Homo sapiens: one gene and its partners. The protein of the gene in region 3 purifies or fractionates together with the protein of the main gene of each other region. This does not show direct contact. Each region holds a gene or a part of one and is shown on either strand. Other genes may lie near its edges. The genes, in order: SEMA4D, CHST10 and DNAJC25-GNG10.

Region 1 (3,649 bases), about 22 Mb from region 3:
CAACCATGGAACAGTTTATTTTCCTTGGAAAAAAACTGGAATAACCCATAACACTTGGGTTTCCAGTTGTCTGTTTTGCCAAAGCCTTTTCCTTTTTTTGTTTCTAATGCGAAATCATCATTGTTTTCTAAGTATCTGTGGAGGGAATGACTTGAGAGTGAAGAGTGTGAAGTTTGCCGCTGTGGTCACTGTCCTTGGTTTCTGTGTCTGGGTTAGTGTCACTGACCTGTAGCTTTGGCCCTGCAGACCGGGGAGCTCTGCACAAAGCCATCAGCCTCGAGCACGCTGTTCACATCATCGAGGAGACCCAGCTCTTCCAGGACTTTGAGCCAGTCCAGACCCTGCTGCTGTCTTCAAAGAAGGTAAAGTGACGCAGGCAGCTGGACCGGGGGCTTCTCCGCTCGGTGGCTTTGATTCTAGGTGACAGGAGAGTTGGCAAGCTGGAGTCGGGCTCCTGGGCAGGCCCCTCTGTCTGTCTGCCCTGGGTGAGCCAACCTTCAGAGTTTGACACAGAGCCATTCCGTGAGCTGTGGGATCTGAATTGGGGAAGGCAGGAAGGCAGACCTGGGGAGACGGGACTTTCTCTTCGAAGTTGCTGGAATGTCATTGAGTTGTTGGTGCAGCTTTACAGGCTGTGGAGAGGTGGGCACTGCTCCATGAAGACACCTTTTTATGCCCTGAGCTTGGGGGGTGTGCAGACTGCATCTGTGGGATATGATAGTGATACAGCTGACTCGTCACCGTGGAAAATCCACAAGAGAAGTGGTTCGTCTCATCTGTAAAGCTGTCTCCACCTGTGGCTGAGACTCTGGTCTGGCCTGCAATACTCCCAAGCAGCCCTTGGCAGGGGTGGGTGGGCGGGCATCCACGCTGGCCTTTAGGGGGCTGCCTCCCTGGCCCTGGCTCCTAACGGGACCTCCAACCACCTTGTGGGATCCAGGCCCAGTCAGTCCTCTCCTCCCTCAGCTGGGAGCAACAGGCAGAGGAAGAGGGCCCCTGTCTGGCCGGGTAAGATACCTACCCTTGGCAGGTGCGTATTTGCAAACACCCCTCCAGGTCTTCTGTCCTCTTCCCTCCCCTGTATCCACAAAGCTTGGGAGCCTGGGTCCTTTTACGTGGTCACCTCCCCTCTGCTAATGGAGAGTTCTCCCTCAGATCTGAAAGGAAAAGAGAATGAAATAGCCTGAGCAAGTTATAAGCCACTGGGTACTGGCATCTGTTCACCAGCCTCTCGGTCTCCAGGACACAAAGGGAGCCCTGGAGATTTGAAGGGTCGACGCTTTAGCCACTGTGGGGCCTCACCCCAGCCTCGTTGTTGAAAGAAGGGGACCCAGAAGCTCTTCTGGGGCCATCGTGCTGTTCAGTGGCCTCAGCCAGACTGGGCAGGCACCTACAACATCTCTAAAATGTGGACTTCTCATTAGAATGAAGATTGGGCCCCTGGTGTGGACATTCGTGAGAATGACACTCTGTTCCAAGGGTCACTTAGGGACCCAGGCTGGTGGAGGCTTCCAGGGCACATGGGCACTGATCCTCAAAGGCAGAAGGGGGTAGGAAGAGGAGGGCCGCACAGAGGGGGTTACGGGTCAGTGCCCACCCGCCATCTCCCAGAACTCGGTCACATGGCCACACCAGGGCAGCTGGCCACACAGGGAGCCTCGCGCCCAGGAGGAGGAGCCAGTGGGTTTGGGGAAGCGCTTGCTGGTCCTACTGGACCACCCGACCCGCCTGTCTCTGTAGGAGCCTCCATTCGTGGGGACGTGGCTTAGTTGCCTGGACAAGCGGAAATACATCCTGCCTGCCGTGGGGTCCTGTGCCTTCTCCTTGGGCCTCAGTAGGCTCCAGGTGGGGGTGGAAGGCCCAGCTCCATGGCCATGGCAGCAGGAAGTGGCTGTTCAGTGGTAAAAAGACTGTGCCGCCTGACCCCATCAGGCTCTCTCACGGTGATCAGCAAATGGAGAAACGGCCAGTACCACGCCCTCCCCCTGTCCTACAGCTGGGGAGGTGCGCTGTGCCTCCACCCTCACCTCCTCTCCCCTGATGACAAGCATGGGGTTTTGCTTTTTATTTTGGTAAATACACATCAGATGAAATTTGCCGTCTTAACCATTTTTCATTGTGCACGTCAGTGGCATTAAGAACATTCACGTTGTTTTGCAGCCATTACCACTGTCTGTCTGCAGGGTGCTTTTCATCTTCCCAAACAGAAGCTTTTTACCTGTGAAATACAAACTCTTCATTTTCCCCTCCTCCAGCCCTGGGCAGCCGCCATTCTGCTTTCTGTTTCTGTCTGGGTACCTCATATGAGTGGAATCACACAGTATTTATCCATTTGTAACTGGCTTATTTCACTTAACATAAAGTCCTCAAGGTTCCTCCCTGCTGTAGCAGGGGTCAGGGTTTTCCAAGGCTACATACTCCTCTGTCGTATGTGAATACCGCATTTTGTGAGTCCCGCATTTTGTGTGTGCGTTCATCCCTTGATGGACACGGTTGCTCCCACCTTCTGGCTTCTGTGAACAGTGCTGCTGTGAACGTGGGTGTGCAGATACCTCAAGTCCTTGCTTTCCATTCCTTGGGCGCACACAGCAGATGCGGTTTGCTCGGCCCTCTCTGAGCCCACCGAGTAGGCTGTGTCTGTATTTTCACCAGGACTCCTTGGGATGCTGAGCTACAGCTAGCGTGGCAGAGGGCAAGGAAGGCACTTAGACAGCTCAGTTGCCTCTGATCACGTCCACCGTCACTCCAACCTGCCCTCGGGGTCTGACGCGCACACACAGCAGCAGAGACAGAGATGGGAGCATGAGAGCTGCCTGCAAGGGGACAATCCTCAGGCCCAGGGAAGGCGGAGACAGGGGGCGTCGAGGGGCAGGAGTGCACAGGACAGGCTTGCTCTCAGCGGGCCTCACTCATGCTGCCAGGTGCCTGGTCAGGCTTTTTTTCTTTGCCTTTAAAAATTTTGTCTTGAAATAATTTTAAATTTACAGAAGAGTTTTGATGATTGCACAGAAGGATCTTGAGCGCCCCCACCTAGCTCCACATGTCCGATGTCTCACATAGCCAGTGTGCATTTATCTGAGCCAAGGTGCTGTCATGGTGCAGTGCGTTACCTGAACCCCAGACCCTGGACCCTCCTACCTCCCGCCCACCACATTCCTGGCTCAGCACCTCAGGTTGCACTGGACACTGCATCTCCTCGGCTTCTGCTCTGTTCCTGCCTCCCTGACCTCAGCACTCCTGGAGAGGAGTAGTCTGGTGTTTTGTGGTGTGTCTGGTGTATTCTTGTGATTATCTTGGGGTCGTGGTTTTAGGGGGAGCACCAAAGAGGGCGCTTTCTGGGGATGGGGCATCTGTATGACTCGCACCAGCGTGATGACCTTGGTCATTCTGTCCAAGTCACCACCGTCTTTTTCCATGTCGAGTGTGTCGGGGCATGTAGTCCACACTGGGGGTGGGGGAGAGTGAGCCCCACCTCCCAGGGGAGTCATGTGGGAAACCCCCACAGTCATTCATGCTTATTTGCAGGGACAGACTTGGAGGCTACAGAAATGCCCTGTTCTCCCACCCACTGACATCCACATCGACCAGTGGGTCCTGCCTGCAGCAGTTACAGCTGGCTGTCCTGACGACCAGTTCCTCCTTCCCTGTC
Region 2 (3,649 bases), on a different chromosome or scaffold from region 3:
CCAGCTACTCGGGAGGCTGAGGCAGGAGAATCTCTTGAACCCAGGAAGCGGAGGTTGCAGTGAGCTGAGATCGTGCCATTGCACTCCAGCTTGGGCAACAAGAGCGAAACTCGGTCTCAGAAAAAAAGTTTACTTTGTGCATGGTGTAGCCGAATGTTTGAATGGAAAATAGAAAATAATATTTGTCTTTAAGTTGGCTTTGTATATTTCCAAAGGGAAAAAAGAAAACAATGCTCATTCTTACACACAATTGAACAAGAAATCTTTTTTCTTTAGCTGGGCATGGTGGCTTACGCCTATAATCCCAGCACTTTGGGAGGCTAAGGCAGGAGAATCGATTGCGCCTAGGAGTTTGAGACCAGCCTGGGCAATATACTGAGACCTCATCTCTACACAAAATACAAAAATCAGGTGGTTATGGTGGTGTGTGTTTATAACCCCAGCTACTTGGGAGGCTGAGGTGGGAGAATCACTTGAGCCCAGGAGTTGGAGGCTATAGTGAGTCATGATTGTGCCACTGCACTCCAGCCTGGGTGACAGAACAAGACCTCGTCTCTTAGAAGAAGAATTTTTGTCTCTAATGCTTTGCTAAAAGAAAAGCAATATCTAATATCTTTTCTTTGTTCAAAGAAAAGCAGTATCTAAAAGTGCAGAGTTTTCTGCATTTTCTAAAGGGAACTTGTTGGGAGGTGCTCTCTCCTGATGCGCTGTTCTTGAGTGCCATCCATGATCAGGGTTAGGTTTGGAACAGAGAGGGAGGAGAAGACAGAGAGGCTCTTTTGGGATAAGTGAGCAAGAGGTGGGATGGATGAGGAAATGAGGTTAAACGAGACCCGTTCTTGTAAGAGCAAGGAGAGTGCCTGGCGTGGCTCCTGGTTTTCCATGGTGGGTGGAGGGCCCGGGCAGCCGCTGATGCCCTGTGGGGAGGAACGGAGGCCACTCTGCAAAGGGGCCTCTCGCTTCCCCAGTGTCTTCATCTCGAAAAGCAGGCAGTCAGTAGCCCCCAGGATGCTCTTCCCACCACCAGGGAATCCCAGGAAATTCACTTAAACACACAAGGGAGAAAGCATCCTGGCCAGAGGTCATGAGTGTAAGAGAGTTTGGTTACAGTAGATCCATAAAGGAAGAGCTGGGTGGGGGGCCCTGAGGGGGGACCTCTGTCATCCTGATAGTTCCAGCGTCCCGGTTCTAGTGTGTTCTAGAAGTCTTATGTCCTTCCCATTTTCTAACTGACGTTGTCCCCTGGGAGGACAGGTTGTTAAAACTACCCTATAAATGGATTTCCTGGCAAGCCCAGTGCATTTTAAAAGATATAACAAGGATATTTGGGTCCATTCAATACAATTATTTGGAAGGATCATCTGCTTTGAAATTTTGGGAAGTTCTGTGTAGCTTTAAGAGATAGATATGGCCGGGCGTGGTGGCTTACGCCTGTAATCCCAGCACTTTGGGAGGCCGAGGTGGCGGATCACAAGGTCAGGAGATCAAGACCATCCTGGCTAACACAGTGAAACCCCGTCTCTACTAAAAATACAACAAAAAATTAGCCAGGCATGGTGGTGGGCACCTATAGTCCCAGCTACTCGAGAGGCTGAGGCAGGAGAATGGCGGGAACCCGGGAGGCGGAGCTTGCAGTGAGCTGAGATCGTGCCACTGCACTCCAGCCTGGGCCACAGAACGAGACTCCGTCTCATAAAAAAAAAAAAAAAAAGAGAGAGAGAGAGATGTAGCAGCTGAAGCCTTAAAAATGCTGAGAAACAGGGCCACAACTAGAGGGGGCCGATGGGGTTGGTGGAGGCTGCCCTGCTATTCAGGAATGCCCTCAGGATGCCTCCAGAGAACAAGGAGGTGTGAGCAGCAAGGGGACTTTAACTCACCGAGGACAGGGGGCCTCTGAGCAACTTCTGTGTGTACTGGCACATCTCCCTGTGCCCCCTCCAACCCATGCACACACAAGGCCTCTCACATTACAGGTATTCTCTTAGGTTCTAAAACAGCCCTGAAAAGAATGGACCAGCATGTAGAATTTGAGCTTTTTCATCTTTTTCCCCCTAGCTAGAGGATTCCAAACTTCTTACTTTGGTTTTTAATTTCTTTTTTCCCCCAAGACGGAGTCTTGCTTGCTCTGTCGCCCAGGCTGGAGTGCAGTAGTGCGATCTTAGGCTCACTGCAACCTCCACCTCCTGGGTTCAGGTGATTCTCCTGCCTGAGCCTCCTAAGTAGCTGGGATTACAGGTGTGCACCACCACACCCAGCTAATTTTTGTATTTTTAGTAGAGATGGGGTTTTACTATCTTGGCCAGGCTGATCTCGAACTCCTGACCTTGGGATCTGCCCACCTTGGCCTCCCAAAGTGCTGGGATTACAGACATGAGCCACTGTGCCCGGCCTTATTTTGTTTTTTAAAGTCAAACTTCTCTCCAAAGATCTGAGGAACCAAGCTTGCATTCATTTTCCTTGCCCAGCCTGCCGATCGGGCTGGTGGAGAGGCTCTGAAGGCCTCATGAAGGGGCTGGGGATAGTGGGTGTCACTCTGTAGACAGACAAGGAAGGGAAGAAGAGAAGGCTCCAGATGGAAAGGAGGGGATAGACCAGCAGGAGCGGCTCTGCTTGGCCCGGTCCTGCCTCCTTTAATGGTCCCTGGGCCTCTTCTGCTCTGTGTCACCTGCAGCCAACTGGGAAGGAGCTTCCAGACAGCCAGCTCGTTCAGCCCCTGGTCTACATGGAGCGCCTGGAACTCATCAGAAACGTCTGCAGGGATGATGCCCTGAAGAATCTCTCGCACACTCCTGTCTCCAAGTTTGTCCTGGACCGAATATTTGTCTGTGACAAGCACAAGATTCTTTTCTGCCAGACTCCCAAAGTGGGCAACACCCAGTGGAAGAAAGTGCTGATTGTTCTAAATGGTGTGTGTGGGTCTACTGAATGTCCACTGGGAAGGGTCTTGGTGGCCGGTGCTGAGGAGGCTGGGGAGGACAGCAAGGAGGAGTCACAAGAGGGCTGGTTTGACCTGAAGGGACTGGTGGCCGTCCAGACAGGCCTGTTTTTGTTGTTTCCTGTTAGTGTTGTGCCTTACAAGTTAGTGGGGCTCGTTTAGACACCGATTCTTTTCAAAGGGGCACAGCCACAGTCCAGCTCTCCTCACCTGTCACAGCAGATCCTCACTTTAGGTGGCTCGCCCACCCCCAGGCCCCCCTCCTTTGTCTCTTCAGGTTCCCTGTGCTGATGGTTATAGTCACCCACTCTGTCCGACATCCCCAGGGCCCCACACTCGCAGAGCCACCAGGAAGCCTCACGGTCACCCTCTCTGCAGTGAGAAGGGCTCACACTGTAGAGCCTGGGAGGGGAGCCCTGGCCCGGGGCCTGGAGCCTCTTTACCTGCAGACCAAGCGTTCTGTGCCAGCGAGCAGGAAGAAATTGTACCCCATTTCACACTAAGCATCTGTGTTCAGAGGATTGAGTCAGCTTGCTTCAGGAAACCTGATGTTTGCTAGGGAACAAATTAGATCATCACAAAGTAACCTCATACACTGCAGTTTTGATTACTCACTACTCTTTTTAGAGATGTCTATTTATTTAAATTCCAATTAGTCTGAACCGATCCTAATAATTATGGGCTCTGCTTATGAAATTTAGCTTCAGACAGGAG
Region 3 (3,749 bases):
TTTCAGGAGACCCTCCCATGTGTTTCCATTCATTTTATCTTTCTCATTATATATATATATAAGCATATATATAAGCCATATATAAGCATATATAAACATATATGAGATACAAATGTAAATAAGCATATATGATACACAAAATTGTTATTATATATATAACTTTTGTATCTCATTACATATACATGTATCTCTCTCATTACATATATAACTGTATATGTTGCTATATAGTCCCATGCAATATTTAGTGGGCTGAGGTGAAAAATAGACACATATATGTTATATATGTAATGACAGAGACATATATGTGTAATGAGATTATATATATTATATATGTAATGAGGGAGATATATGTAATGAGAGATATATATTTATTCAATGAGAAATACAAAATTATAATGTATATTCATTATGTATTATAAGTATATAATGCTATGTATCAGTATTTGATTTCACTTTATTAAAAGAGTTGATTATATCTGAACGTTTATTTATTTGTTACTGACTGTCATCCTCCATCAGAATATATGCTCTCTGAAGTTGAGCTTCTTGTTTACTTTGCTCACCACTGTATCCCCAGTGCCTAAGTAACAGTGCCCGGCTCAGAGTAGAGACTCAATAAACATTTACCAGATGAATGATAGAAACAGATTTTTTGAGGCAAAGTTTTTCATGTTGCCATATAGTCCCATGCAATATTTTGGACATACTTATACTAAAAAATTATTATCTGAAATTCAAATGTAGGCCGGGCACGGTGGCTCACGCCTGTAATCCTAGCATTTTGGAAGGATCGCTTGATCCTTCCAGCAGGTTGTCCCGGGAACGCGCAGCCCAAGGTGGACGCACAGACCCGCGTACAGAGATTTTTTATTGTCATGACTGGGGGTGGTGGCACTACTGGCATTTAGTGTGGAGAGGCCAGATATGCTGCTAAACATCTTACAATGCAAAGGGCAGCCCCTCAAAGGCAAAGAATTATCTGGTCTAAAATGTCAATAGCGTGGAGGCTGAGAAAAACTGAACTAGATGGCTATGAACTTTCAGGGTCCCTACCTAGTACACAGGCAGCGCCTAGAATTGCTAAGTTCATCTTCCGTTTGGAAAGGCAGCATGGGGTTAGTGAGAGGAAGGCGCCCGGGGCTGGTGGCTGGCTTTAAAGGCCTACGTGCAAATCTTCTTGACGCTGATAACGGGATGCGAGAGAGCCAGGTAGGTTACCTATTGCAGCAGGTCAAGTGATGATGTCGAAAAGGATGCGTGTGCCGGACACTGTGGAAGGTAAAGCGCTCCGCACAGCCCGCCTAAGTGCGCCCGGGACAGAGCCATCCCCCAGGTGCTACCAAACAAATCCTCCAGCTGCTGGTACGGGGAAGGTGTTCAGTGACACACCGGAAGCAGCCTAGTGGCTGAGGCGTCCTTCTCCCTACCAACGGGTTGCGAAGGAAGTAGTTGCTGTAGCCGCGCCCTGTGCGCCTGCGCGGAGGCGTCGGCTGCTGACGTGTAGCTGGGGCCAGACGGGACTAGCCGGGCGCGCGGCTGAGTGCTGCAGAATCGCTGGGGTGGCAGAGCCGCCAGCGAGGCTGGGGATGGGGGCGCCGCTGCTCTCTCCCGGCTGGGGAGCCGGGGCTGCCGGCCGGCGCTGGTGGATGCTGCTGGCGCCCCTGCTGCCGGCGCTGCTGCTGGTGCGGCCCGCGGGGGCCCTGGTGGAGGGGCTCTACTGCGGCACGCGGGACTGCTACGAGGTGCTGGGCGTGAGCCGCTCGGCGGGCAAGGCGGAGATCGCGCGGGCCTACCGCCAGCTGGCCCGGCGCTACCACCCTGACCGCTACCGGCCCCAGCCCGGAGACGAGGGCCCCGGGCGGACGCCGCAGAGCGCCGAGGAGGCTTTCCTGCTGGTGGCAACCGCCTACGAGACACTCAAGGTGAGGCCTGCGGGCGTGGAGGGGCTTCGAAGACTGGCCGCGGGAAGCCCACGGCGCCTTCCGACCCCGGTCCGCGGAGCGTGGGCCTCTGTGACCCCGAAACTGAGCACAGCCACCACCGCGACCTTTAAGATACTCACGTTTCCCACGTGGCCCTGTGAAAGAGCCGAGTCGGCCCCACGGGGCCTTGGGGGGCACAGCTAGCCTCCTTGCCCTCTTCCTTTTTGTGACATTGTTATGCAAAACTTTGGCCATCTTACGATTTCGTGAAAATATTTTAATAACGTGCATTTCACATTCGAAAAGCAGGGTGATCATTATTAGTAGGATCTGGGGTAGCCCACAACAGGGAAAGTCTCGAATATCAAGTGACAACTGTGATCGCATCAGTTTGATATGACAGAAAATTGGTTTCTGGAAATAGTGTTAATGGTGACGCTTAGTTTGGGTTTAAGGAACTAAGAAAACACTGAGAAGAACAATGAACACCAGTCAAAAGGCTGGATGTGAGTCTTTGCTGTGACACCCCTGTATGACCTTGGATAGTGACTTATTATGTTGAAATAGCTGTTTCTTCATATGCAAAATTAAGGCCATGATACCTCCTCTCAGAGTTATTATGGGGATTAAATGATAAGTGTGCGAACCGCCCCCCTTTCCATAGGATCCATAAATAGGTGCTTAATGACTTGGGTACAAAACTCTGAGAATTTCTAGTAGGAAATATTTTGTGAATATGTATTTGTATTTCATTTGACAGGTTTTATTGAGTCTTGTGGGGATGAGAGATTTAGCCCGATGCTGTTTTCTTCTACTACTGCAAAAAATCAAACCATCTAGGACATCACGAAGTATAAATCGTACTTGATGGTGGTATTACTGCTTGAAGGGCCCCATCATACTAATGCGTCAGCGATTGTAGTTGTAAAGTATTTCTTTTCTAGCCTTTTTTTTTTTTTCCCGAGGCAAAATTTTCTATGTTGCCAGGTAGCCTGCTTTTAATGATTGTACTTTGAGTGGATATAATTTTACCTTGGATTGTTCCTCCAGATTGTTTTTCCAGAGCTGAAAATAGTCAAGGAGCTAACAACTTTATTGATGCCTTCCAGAGCAGTTTGGATAATTTGGAGTCATAAAATGAGTGGTGGAGGGGCGGGCCCTGAACTAGGTAAACTAGGTGAATTGAACTAGGTAAAATTTAATTTACCTAGTTCATTAAATTCTCACTAGCGTTAGTGAGATTGTAATTTTTATTGGCAGTTAACTGAGGGATGGCTGGGGAACTGGGAAAGTGCTGAGGCCCCAAAGGGCTTTGTTGCCGATTATGTAAAAAGTGATGGAAAAAAGACTCCAGAAAAAATAGGAAAGAACTCTCCATCCAAGGCACTTCAGCATATGAAGCTCCAACCTCTGTTCCTTGTAGTCAGCCAGAAGCCCTGCTGGTGCGTGAGGGAGCCCTGGACCAGTGTGTGAAATCATAATGGGATTTACTAGGGATAGTAAAATTGATAGGATTAGGGATGTTAATCATGTTAATTTGTTTCAGGCGCGAGATGGTAATAAGGTTGTGGTGCTTGAATTTAGGTTGAGTGTCAGGAATGCAGTAGTTGTTAGGATGATATAGATAATTAGGTTAAAGATAGTGATATTTGGATTGTATATCAGTTATCCCATTATGATTTCACACACTGCTTTATAAACTAAGACCATGCAATAGTATTTAGTGTGTTTGACTTTTGGGGATTTAGGGAGTTTATGGACTTTGGAAGTTAAACAAGTGGACGCTTACCCTCTGTGTCAACCCATCTTCTGGAAGATGGAGAACTT

What was found.
Region 1: the proteins of DNAJC25-GNG10 (region 3) and SEMA4D purify together in Homo sapiens (affinity purification with mass spectrometry, with the first as the bait; one large-scale study listed by BioGRID). This does not show direct contact.
Region 2: the proteins of DNAJC25-GNG10 (region 3) and CHST10 purify together in Homo sapiens (affinity purification with mass spectrometry, with the first as the bait; one large-scale study listed by BioGRID). This does not show direct contact.

What each region holds. Positions count from the first base shown.
Region 1 is NC_000009.12:89,383,080-89,386,728, reverse strand, and holds part of SEMA4D (semaphorin-4D isoform 1 precursor), read left to right. Parts: intron 1-246; coding exon 247-362; intron 363-623; coding exon of another isoform or gene 624-782; exon of another isoform or gene 783-3,649. UniProt on the Homo sapiens protein: Cell surface receptor for PLXNB1 and PLXNB2 that plays an important role in cell-cell signaling. Regulates GABAergic synapse development. Promotes the development of inhibitory synapses in a PLXNB1-dependent manner.
Region 2 is NC_000002.12:100,397,165-100,400,813, reverse strand, and holds part of CHST10 (carbohydrate sulfotransferase 10), read left to right. Parts: intron 1-2,671; coding exon 2,672-2,906; intron 2,907-3,649. UniProt on the Homo sapiens protein: Catalyzes the transfer of sulfate from 3'-phosphoadenylyl sulfate (PAPS) to position 3 of terminal glucuronic acid of both protein- and lipid-linked oligosaccharides.
Region 3 is NC_000009.12:111,629,822-111,633,570, forward strand, and holds the start of DNAJC25-GNG10 (DNAJC25-GNG10 protein precursor), read left to right. Parts: upstream 1-1,512; 5' UTR 1,513-1,586; coding exon 1,587-1,922; intron 1,923-3,749. Other genes in the region: DNAJC25 (dnaJ homolog subfamily C member 25 precursor), read left to right, coding at 1,587-1,922.